Homo sapiens: one gene and its partners. The protein of the gene in region 1 purifies or fractionates together with the protein of each later gene. This does not show direct contact. Each region holds a gene or a part of one and is shown in the gene's direction. Other genes may lie near its edges. The genes, in order: ST8SIA1, INTS1 and RPIA.

The links.
Region 2: the proteins of ST8SIA1 (region 1) and INTS1 purify together in Homo sapiens (affinity purification with mass spectrometry, with the first as the bait; one large-scale study listed by BioGRID). This does not show direct contact.
Region 3: the proteins of ST8SIA1 (region 1) and RPIA purify together in Homo sapiens (affinity purification with mass spectrometry; 2 studies listed by BioGRID and IntAct, with this or other methods). This does not show direct contact.

The regions. Positions count from the first base shown.
Region 1 is NC_000012.12:22,195,732-22,198,864, reverse strand, and holds part of ST8SIA1 (alpha-N-acetylneuraminide alpha-2,8-sialyltransferase), read left to right. Parts: 3' UTR 1-3,133. UniProt on the Homo sapiens protein: Catalyzes the addition of sialic acid in alpha 2,8-linkage to the sialic acid moiety of the ganglioside GM3 to form ganglioside GD3; gangliosides are a subfamily of complex glycosphingolipds that contain one or more residues of sialic acid.
Region 2 is NC_000007.14:1,469,623-1,473,460, reverse strand, and holds the end of INTS1 (integrator complex subunit 1), read left to right. Parts: intron 1-276; coding exon 277-389; intron 390-1,074; coding exon 1,075-1,188; coding exon of another isoform or gene 1,189-1,218; intron 1,219-1,819; coding exon 1,820-1,890; intron 1,891-2,236; coding exon 2,237-2,328; intron 2,329-2,505; coding exon 2,506-2,615; intron 2,616-2,768; coding exon 2,769-2,884; 3' UTR 2,885-3,184; downstream 3,185-3,838. UniProt on the Homo sapiens protein: Component of the integrator complex, a multiprotein complex that terminates RNA polymerase II (Pol II) transcription in the promoter-proximal region of genes.
Region 3 is NC_000002.12:88,733,173-88,736,672, forward strand, and holds part of RPIA (ribose-5-phosphate isomerase), read left to right. Parts: intron 1-1,379; coding exon 1,380-1,444; intron 1,445-2,030; coding exon of another isoform or gene 2,031-2,046; exon of another isoform or gene 2,047-2,127; intron 2,128-2,496; coding exon 2,497-2,565; intron 2,566-3,362; coding exon 3,363-3,500. UniProt on the Homo sapiens protein: Catalyzes the reversible conversion of ribose-5-phosphate to ribulose 5-phosphate and participates in the first step of the non-oxidative branch of the pentose phosphate pathway.

The DNA.
Region 1 (3,133 bases):
AGGTTAGGGATCCTGCTAAAGATCTTACAATGCACAAGTCAGCCTCTCACAGCAAAATAATTATCCAGGCTGAGATGTCAGTAGTATCAAGGTTGACATCTCAGACCTGGATTAGACCTGGATTAGACCAAAATGAAATTTTGATTGTTCCACCTTGTCTTCACTTAAAGATAGATATACATGCTCACAGCATTCAAAATATGACTACAATTTAATGAAAATATTTTCTTATGGTAGATTACAACTCACTAGATACACCATACATATGCCTTTTGGACATAATTGGTTAGATAGGAGTGTGTGTGTGTGTGTGTGTGTGTGTGTGTGTGTGTGTGTGTGTGTAGCATGAAGTTAGGCATCTCTATCCTTAACTGTGCTATGTGTTCCTAAGTAAGGACCTCGCTAGAATCATCCTGTAGAGTGCTCTGGAATACTCTATTATTAAGATCTTCAATTCTAAGCTCCCATTATCTTTCTTTGTTTATCTGAAATTAAGACCTTCAGAATTAGGCCTGGTACTTTTCCAGATTTGATCAGTTACATTTTGATATAACTGACTCTTAAAATTCAGCTTAGAAGACATTCAATAAGAAAATCTTTAATCACTTTTGGTGATGCACCTGCCAAGAGGGGGCATCACTTTGTACCATCAGACTAATTAAAAAAATTGTTGTGTAGTCATAAAAATTAGGCTGATCCATAGGGGCAAAAGGAAGGGTGAAGAGACTAAAAACTAGTACCCTGATAGAATTTTAGTTTTTATTAGCCTCGATTTGAGAACTGCATTGATTCCAAAGATCATGAAGGTAGGTGAAGGATTAAGTCATTCCATAATTAAGAAAAGTAATGTTTATATGAAAGATTTTTATATGGACAATGACTCACAGACACATATGCTTTGTATAGAGGATTTTGCCAAAAGTTTATACAAAATTGCACATCTAAACTGCATAATTCTCATACAAGAAGTTAAGGAAGTGCTCACTGGATTTTGCTTCTGTATAGTTCACTTTTATCTGTCTTCACAAGGGTAGGAAGTAAATGATCTCAAATGGCACATGTTCAGACAATACTGTGTTTGGCTTTGTGATGTCTCATGTCTTTCTCTTGGCTAAAAAAAATTGTTTAGGCTATATATAACTTGTACCTGAAGCAATCTGGACAACATGGCTTAAAATGGAAAATAACTGAAAAAATCCTGGGATTTTAAATTTGCCAAAAATACCCTTGGATTAGTCAAAGGCTTTACAAGAGTGTTATAGATGATCCAAAATGGAAACAATATTGATAACATTTCTTTTCGTCAGCAGCTACATATTCCAGTTTTATAACTTTATTATATACATTTTTTGATTATTAATAGAAAGTCAGCCATCCAGAGTTTTAACTTCTGTGGTTGAAATATTGACTTTGTGAAATTTTTCACTGACAAATACTTGTTAGGAGGGACCTAAGGGGGAGGGGAATGTTACCAGTCCACTGAAAACTTTAGGAAATGTTCATTGTGTTGTGTAAATACTTTCCCACCAGCACCAGGTAATATATTCTCTATGTTTGTAGAATTCCAAAGATCAAAAGCTGTAAGGACGTTTATGTGAACTTGACGCAAACTTGTGGAGGAATAAGGACTGAGAGTAATGTTGTGCTTTTTCTTTATCTTCCCGTCGTATAGGTCGACTCTCAGGTTATATGACTTTTATTGGGCACACGTCAGGGGTGGAAGTGGTAGAAGTGGGTTAACAATTTCAAGGCCTGGCAACCTAGGTCAAAACCTCTAATAAAGTCAGCAGTAAACATAACTAGCAACTTCATTCCACTATGTGCTAGGAGGAGGGTGAGGCAAGTTGAAAGGAGATGACCCTATCCCCACACTCTCAGGATGTAAAAGGGCAGAGTGCTCTCTACCCTTAACCTTGGCTTTTTAGCACCGTCAGTCTCTGTCCTCTCCCAGGAGAGCTGCCTTGGCTCCAGAGTTGAGCTAGTAGCATTGTGACTAGAGAGGTAGTGTGGAAATTCGCTGAGGACCTCAAAATTTTACACTGCCTTAAACTGTTTTGTTTTTGCTTAAACTCGTGCTGTCTAAATGTGGGTGTTTTGTGGCAGAGTCTGATCACCCCGACCTAGTTATAGCCCTGCCAGTGATTCTAAAGTGGAACTTTTCCCCCTCATTCATATGGATAGTCTGAGTCCTTGAAGCTAGGGAGATATCAAATATTCTACCAGTTCCTACATAGCTTCTTTAAAAGTCCTAGAGACTAACTCACAGGAAGTCTGAAGCCCAGAGCGTCTGTTTATAAACTCCTAAATATGAGGCCACAATATTTAGGTTGAGCACTAGAAAATTTCTATTTTGCAAGTGGAAGGAGACTTGAATCTATAATTGCTGTAGCTTTTTTTCCCTTCTATCATAAGAAAATGGATACCATCTGCTTTACCCTCAGCCCAGACTTGTCTTTTGAATTTTTTACATACATCTTAGGGGTGAGAGATTGAAACAAGTGCATGAATGAAAAGCTTATTGAAACATAACACAGCCCCTGCTCACCATTTCAGTAAGGGAAAATACATGTTTCTGTTTCCCTCTAATTTGTTTTCTCTGGTGCCAACATTTCTGATTTCTTCTGTCTCTAATACATAAGGAATAAATACCATATTTTAAATTGACTTACATGCCTGCGAGCATTTGCCAGATAATCAAAGCCTATGACTCTAACTTTTTAAAGCACAGAAGAGGAATTATATTTTATGGTCACTCCTCTGTGTTTCTATTGATCTCTATATTGTGCTAAAATTCTTTCAGGTAATTTTTTTCTTGTTGAAGCTGTGGGATATAATCAATGATGCCAAGCTGTCTGAGAATTTTATAGAATAATATCCAAATATATTGATCCTGCCTCTTTCTGCTTCTATGTAATTAAACTTTCTTTTGATGTTTATTTTTAAAATGTATGCTTCACACAACACCAATAAACATCTAAGAGATGTGATATAATCCAAGGCAAAGAAAAGTAAGAATCAGTTAATGTCTATTTTATCTGCACAGCATTACGAACAGAAAATTGTAATAAAAAAAGGTTTAACCAAACTGAAAAAAAGAGAGACAAAATCTTGGTTTTAATTTGAAAAGATGATT
Region 2 (3,838 bases), on another chromosome or scaffold:
TGAGGCCGGGGAGGGCTGCTGAGCGTGGTGCTCATCCCAGGGCGCAGAGGCCGCCCCACCCTGTGCCGAAGCCGTCTGAACCCACCCCTGCAGCTCTCTGGCTCTCTGTCCCGTTCCACGCACATGTGGCTTCCCCGCCCGGCCCTCCCTCTGAGCGTCCTGGCCTCTCCTGCATGCCTGTGTCCACACGCTCCCATGCCACCCTAGTTTGACCCCTGACCCAGCCTTCCTCCTGCCAGCGTCTTCCTCCCAGGTGAAAGCATCTTCTCTCCCCAGCGACCTGTCCTTCGACAACAGTGACCTGGTGATGCTGAAATCCCTCCTTGCAGGGCTCAGCCTGCCCAGCAGGGACGACAGGACCGACCGAGGCCTGGACGAAGAGGGCGAGGGTGAGTGGGGCTGCCAGGGGCTGCTGGAAGCAGCTGCGGAACAGTCCTACAGGGCCTGGTTTTCCCAGCGCACAGCCAGCCCTGGGCCGTCCGAGGCGTCCCGATGGGGGCTGTGTGAGCCTGGGACCTTGCTGGCTGGCCCCTGACCCACCTCAAGGGGACGAAGCACTGACTGGTGCCTGACAGAGCATCAGCACACCTGCCCCCCGGCACATCGCCCCGCCCCGGCAAATGGCCCTCCCCACCCCCCCGTCCCTGGCACATCCACCATCCACCAGTGCTTGTCCGAGGTGTCCCTCCCCAGGAAGCCTCCCCTGGTCCTACTGGGCAAGGCTTGTCCTTGGTTTTTCCCTGCCTGAGGTGACACGGCACCGCAGCACGTCTCTCCTGTGCCGCCGGAAGAGCGCCAGGCCCGGGTCCCAAGGGGCCATCCCGTCTTGTGCCCAGTGGGTCCTGGCCCACATTGCGAGAAACCCAGCAGGGAGAGACTCGCAGAGGTGCATGCGCCGGATCCAAAGGCAGCTCCCGGCTCCTGGCTCCACCCCATTTGTGGAGCGCTGCTGTGTGCAGGCACCTTGGGAGCCTGGGCAGTGGCCGCCGTGCTCTCGGGAGGGCAGGTCCTGGTGCCTCAGTGTGGCACGTCCTGCCGCTCCCGCCCTCCTGCAGCACTGCCACTGTCTTCCAGAGGAGAGCTCAGCCGGCTCCTTGCCCCTGGTCAGCGTCTCCCTGTTCACCCCTCTGACCGCGGCCGAGATGGCCCCCTACATGAAACGGCTTTCCCGGGGCCAAACGGTGGAGGGTGAGTCAGGCCCTGCTTCACCCACGCCAGGTCAGCGCCCTGGGTCCCATGGGGCTGCGGGCAGCAGCCAGTAGCCATTTGGGCACTGACTTTGGCGTGAGCCTGGCCCACGCTGGGCTGTGGGTGGGTGGGCTGTTCCTCACAGTGGGGAGCACCCCCAGAGAGGGCCTTAGAAACTCAGGGGCCCAGGGGAGCTGGAGGTGGCTGCTCTGCTTCAGGCACAGCAAAAAGCAGGGGAGCCCCCTAAGGTGGTGGGGGTACAGCAGGAAGAGGTCAGGCGGGTGGGCAAGACCAGCGGGTGGGCAGTACCGGTGGCCGCTGTCAGAGGACAGCCAAGGCTGAGCGGCCCGGATGGAGTCGGGCCGTGGGGACACTTGGTGCTAAGAGCACCCTGGATATGGGGCTGCCGTGAGGGGTCAACCCCTCTCCTTGGAGGCCACTAGTAGGGGCAGGGCCGGGTATTTGTGGAGCTTGGGGGCAGGTGACTGCCTGGGGCGTCACTGGGCTCATGCTTTCCAGTGCTTTCTGTCCTGTGGTGCTCGGGGCCTTGCCCCCTCTGGGTGGCTGGGGTGGGGTGGGCAGAGGTCTGCCTGGGCCCTTCAGTTCTGGTCTGGCCCTCTCTCTGTGTCAGATCTGCTGGAGGTTCTGAGTGACATAGACGAGATGTCCCGGCGGAGACCCGAGATCCTGAGCTTCTTCTCGGTGAGCTGGATGGGGCTGAGGGAGAGCTGGGAGGAGCCACTCCCTTGGGGAACCCCAGCAGGGCCACCACCCCAACATGGCGTGCCCGCGCTGAGCCCCAGGGAGTCCTCTGAGGCTGGGCTTCGGGTGGGGGCCCCAGCCCAGGTGTTCACAGTCAAGCCGCCGCCAGAGCAGGCCTGCCTTCAGCCCCGGGCTGGGACCGGCCAGTGGCACGTGCGTCCTGCCTTCTGGATAGGGGCCTAGGGTCCCTGCCGTTGCCGCCAACCATCACGAGACCAAGAGGTGAAGGGGCCTTGATGGGGGCTGGACCCCTTGGTCACACACCTCCCACCTTTCCCCCGGTCAGACCAACCTGCAGCGGCTGATGAGCTCGGCCGAGGAGTGTTGCCGCAACCTCGCCTTCAGCCTGGCCCTGCGCTCCATGCAGAACAGCCCCAGGTGAGGCCACCGCCGGCCTCTGTCCCGCCGCCACCGCTGGGCCCTGCTAACCCAGGTCACCGCTTGACCCGCCTGGTGGCCAGACCAGGCTTCCAGGCGGCTCAGCTCGCCCTGTCGGGTGGGGGTCTGGCGTGGGCACAGGGTGGAGGTTCCCACTGAAGTGTGTGGGTCTTTCAGCATTGCAGCCGCTTTCCTGCCCACGTTCATGTACTGCCTGGGCAGCCAGGACTTTGAGGTGGTGCAGACGGCCCTCCGGAACCTGCCTGAGTACGCTCTCCTGTGCCAAGGTGAGGACTGGCCCCCCGCCCAGGGCCCTGGCAGCCCTCGGGGAGGCCGGAGGTGCGTCCCCCGAGGGCTGGCTCTTGGGAGTCCCGAGGTCTGGTCACTGCGGCCAGGATGTTGTGGCCAGCGTGACGTGCAGGGCCCCGTTTCCCCCACAGAGCACGCGGCTGTGCTGCTCCACCGGGCCTTCCTGGTGGGCATGTACGGCCAGATGGACCCCAGCGCGCAGATCTCCGAGGCCCTGAGGATCCTGCATATGGAGGCCGTGATGTGAGCCTGTGGCAGCCGACCCCCCTCCAAGCCCCGGCCCGTCCCGTCCCCGGGGATCCTCGAGGCAAAGCCCAGGAAGCGTGGGCGTTGCTGGTCTGTCCGAGGAGGTGAGGGCGCCGAGCCCTGAGGCCAGGCAGGCCCAGGAGCAATACTCCGAGCCCTGGGGTGGCTCCGGGCCGGCCGCTGGCATCAGGGGCCGTCCAGCAAGCCCTCATTCACCTTCTGGGCCACAGCCCTGCCGCGGAGCGGCGGATCCCCCCGGGCATGGCCTGGGCTGGTTTTGAATGAAACGACCTGAACTGTCTGTGTGCTCTCTGGTGTCCCATGTCGCCCTCTGGCCAGTGAGAGCCTCAAGGACCCTGGCCTTGGCTTCCCAGCCCCACAGTGCAGGGAGTTGAGCAGGGTCCGGGGTGGTGGAGACCAGGGCCAGGCTGGGCTCTCCCTTGGGCCAGCAGTTCCCGCAGGTGTTGAGGGTCGGGGGATGCTGCCCACTTGGCCGCCCCCGCCCCACGTCATGGTCTCCCTGTCGAGTGCCGGCCCTGGGCCCTGCCGGGCCTCAAGTCCTCTGCCCACGGGGTCGGCCTCTGTTGAGTGAGTCCGGCCTTGTCAGGCTGCGTGGGGGACTGGCCCAGCTGACTGGTCTCTCTCTCCTGCACTAAAAGGATCAACAAGGCCCTGAGAGCCTCAACTGTGGGCGTCCCTCTGTGGGAGCTGAGTTGGGGTCCCATTCCAGAAGAGTCCGAGTAGCCGGTGGTGCTGCTCGTCCTGCCTTTGCAGGCACCAGCTCCCAGGGGAGGGTCTGGGAGGGTCCTAGTGCATGCGGGGCGGAGCTTGGCATGGGGCCCTGTTTGCTGGCCCGCAGTGCACTCTCCTCCCTCCCAGCCAGGTTGGGGTTAGAGCCGCCCACCCCTCTGTCCTCGCTGCACCGGGGTCTTTCCAGCACACAGATGGGACCCGT
Region 3 (3,500 bases), on another chromosome or scaffold:
AGACGGGAACCACAGGAACAGCTCCATGTGGGCAAATGGACACTGCTCGGACTGGCTGGGGTGATAGGACAGAGTGAGTGTACTGCGTTGGTGCATAGTGGGGAGAGGGAAAGCAAAGCTGGATAGGAAAAGTGGGGTGGTTTTATGGCACCTGGAAAACCAGGCAGGTTGAGACTTGATGGTGATCTGGTAGCCCATGTTTCTGTCATACACATGGGCCTCACAGGGGTTAGTAAGAACTATGGGAAGGACTTGGGGATTTCTGTGGGCAGAGCCAGGGGCACAGGCTGATCATGTGTTCAGCAGCTGTGAAGAGAGTGGTTTGGGCTGAAGGTGGGCCTGGAGCCCAGACAGAAAAGGTTGCCACTTTCCATACCCCTGAGAATTGCCAGAGTGCAGCCTGGCTCTGGGGTTAATGCAGGCCTGGGGAGAGCAGTGCCTGCTGTAACTTCAGACAAAGGCTGGAATCTGTAAAAGGCTGGAAGCAAGCATGACCCATATGAAACTGTATTTTTTATACCTGTGCCATGCCAGCCATGCCAAGCAACTTAGTAACTGCACCATGAATAGAATTTGTACCCTGCATACTACTTGCTGTCTTTAAAAATATACTCGGGGTTCCTACAATGTCCATGCAGAGTACCATGAGTGATGAGAAATGTGTAACTTTCTTGATTTTGATTTTTAAAAGCTAGATGAACCCATTTGCCCCTCAACTGCTTTTGGGGCTTGTGGTGGAGCTTCCTAATAGAGGGAGCGGGCAAGCCCAGACAAGTGGGGTCTTAGTGGCAATGCCCCAGTAATTTCCAGTTCGGGAACTCATCAGCTTTCTTGTGTATCTCTTCATTTGATCCTCATGTCCACTTAAAATTGCCTGTGAGGTTGCTCACAGTTAGTACAGAGACTTCTGAATCAGTTTTTTTTTTTTGCATTTTTCCCACCCCCAGTGGAATTTAGTAGCACAGATATTACTGTATTGGCCCTTTGGTGGGACAAAACTCATTGTAATGTCTAAGATTTTTTATTCCCCCACCAAAAACTAATTTTTGCCTCTTGGGGGAGGTGATAGCACCCACACTGAGAACACGTGCTCTAAATAACGCCAGCTTGTCCACAGAGAAGCCCATCAATGAGAAAAGGGAACATAGTCTTGTGGGTAAGAACTGCATCCCGGTTAGAGTCCCAAGTCCTGTGCTGTTTCCCTTTGATCCTAGTGGAGCAGCTTAACCTCTTGTAGCTCAATTTCTTGATTTGCTAAATGGGAGTACTAGAATTAGCTAACAGGGCTGCTGAGTATCTGATGAGCTATCGCATGCTCAGGCAATTAGCAGAGGCTCCCCTCGAGTGGTTTTTGTATCTTTACCTTTCCCCCAATACAGATCGACCTTGCCATCGATGGTGCTGATGAAGTAGATGCTGATCTCAATCTCATCAAGGGTGGCGGGTGAGTGTTGTGGGGGCTTCTGTGCTAAAGAGTATCTGCCAGTTAATCCTTAGCAAAGCAAGATGGATACAGAATAAACAAATTGCCACTGTGACATATGCAAGTTTGTCTTTCTCCTAGGATATTGATAGCATATGGCCTTAGACCCAACTCAGCATTTCTGGTCATTAGCAGCAATTTACTGACAAGGAACCTGGGCCTCTTTAGTGAGATCATTCATCGTAATGGATTCTCTGTGGATTTGTGTTCTTTTGTTGATTCAGACTTTAAAAACTTAAGGCCAAATCAAAATAATACTGGGCTAGATTGTTAGGTCTGTGGGCACCAGTGTGTGACTTTTGCTTTAAAGCTGTGCTTACTTCTGTGAGCAGTTAGGGATATTATTTGTTCCTTTGGAAAACATTAATTGGGTATTTCTTAAGTGCTGATTTGGGGAGTGGTGGGAATGGTGAGTTGAAAAAGGTGAAATCCTGTTCTGCTGGTTCTTATAATCAAGCAGACTATTGAGTGATGCAGCATTTGTTTAAAATCACACTTTACTGTTTATTAGATTTTCTTACGTGTTACTTAATCCTGTCAACTGCAGATGTGAGATAGTTTAGCTGCTAAACCCTAGAGGTAGACCTGGACCCAAATCTGCTGATTCAGTGCTCTGGGCTCTCTCCACTTCATCACCCTCATTGGCAAGTAGTCGACTGGGCGGGTTGTTCAAAGCGTGCCCTCCTCAGCTTCTAGACCCTCCCATTCATGCCATGTCCAGATGACATCTCCCTGAACACAATGCTCCCTCTCAGACACATTTGGATGGAATTATGCCTGGCCTGAATGGGAACCTTGTCTGCTTTCTAGGTTTCTCCCAGACAGGGGTAATGTTTCTAGAGTCCATTTACTAGGAGCAGCATGATGGGACTGGGGATGTCCCTTTAAAAATTAAAAGTTAAGTTTCTCTTTAAGTGCCAGGATTGAGTGGATTTGGGATTCCTGTATTTAACCTTAGTTCCCAAACTGAGATTTTTGTCTTACTCCTGTGTTCCTTTGCTTCTTTCCTGCAGAGGCTGCCTGACCCAGGAGAAGATTGTGGCTGGCTATGCTAGTCGCTTCATCGTGATCGCTGATTTCAGGTACAGTTTCTGGTGTCTGAGCTGCCAACTGAGGAGGTAGATTGGATCCCCAAGCCGCATCCCCATTTTTGTGAAAGAGGAAATGGAGAGCTGCAGGGACTGTCTGACTTTCTGAGACTGATGGCTAGGACTTAGTACAGTGTCTAGGAGACCTTATGTTCTGCTTGTAGGCTGAAGGTAGATGTTGCTAATCACAGCACTGTTATCCGCAGCCAGGATCTCTAGCATCGTTTCATGTGTTCAGTGGAACGGGGAAACAGCTTGTCACCCTGTTAGCAGAGCATGCTCTCATGTGTCATGTCACTCACTGGATCCTCACAGGGAGCCTCAGAGGAGGCAGGGTGTGCCCTGCCCACGGGCAGTGACTCAGCATACCCTGCTTCTTCTCGGGTCAGGGTTTGCCGCAGGTGACTGGTGTCATTGATAGTCTTTGACCAGGCTCTCAGATGCTCCTTCAAGGAATGTAGTCAAAAGCACTTGTGCTGAGCATGTTAATTTCAAATATGTGTATGTGTATATTTACTTGTGAAATATAGCCACAGGACGAGCATAAATATTAAACACCTACATACCCACAAGCCAGCAATATCAGATTTTAACATTTTTGTCATATTTATTTCAAATAGCTCTTTTCCTATATAGTGAAACAGCTAATTCATTTGTAGCCCCATGTATATTGCCCTTGATCACTTTCCTTGCCTTCCCACCATCTCATTAACCCTGTTCCTGAATTTGGTGTTTGCCTGTACTGTTGAGCTTATTTACTTTTATTGTACTTTCTGACTCCTTCTTTCCAGGAAAGATTCGAAGAATCTCGGGGATCAGTGGCACAAGGGAATCCCCATCGAGGTCATCCCAATGGCCTATGTCCCAGTGAGCCGAGCTGTGAGCCAGAAGTTTGGGGGCGTGGTTGAACTTCGAATGGCTGTCAACAA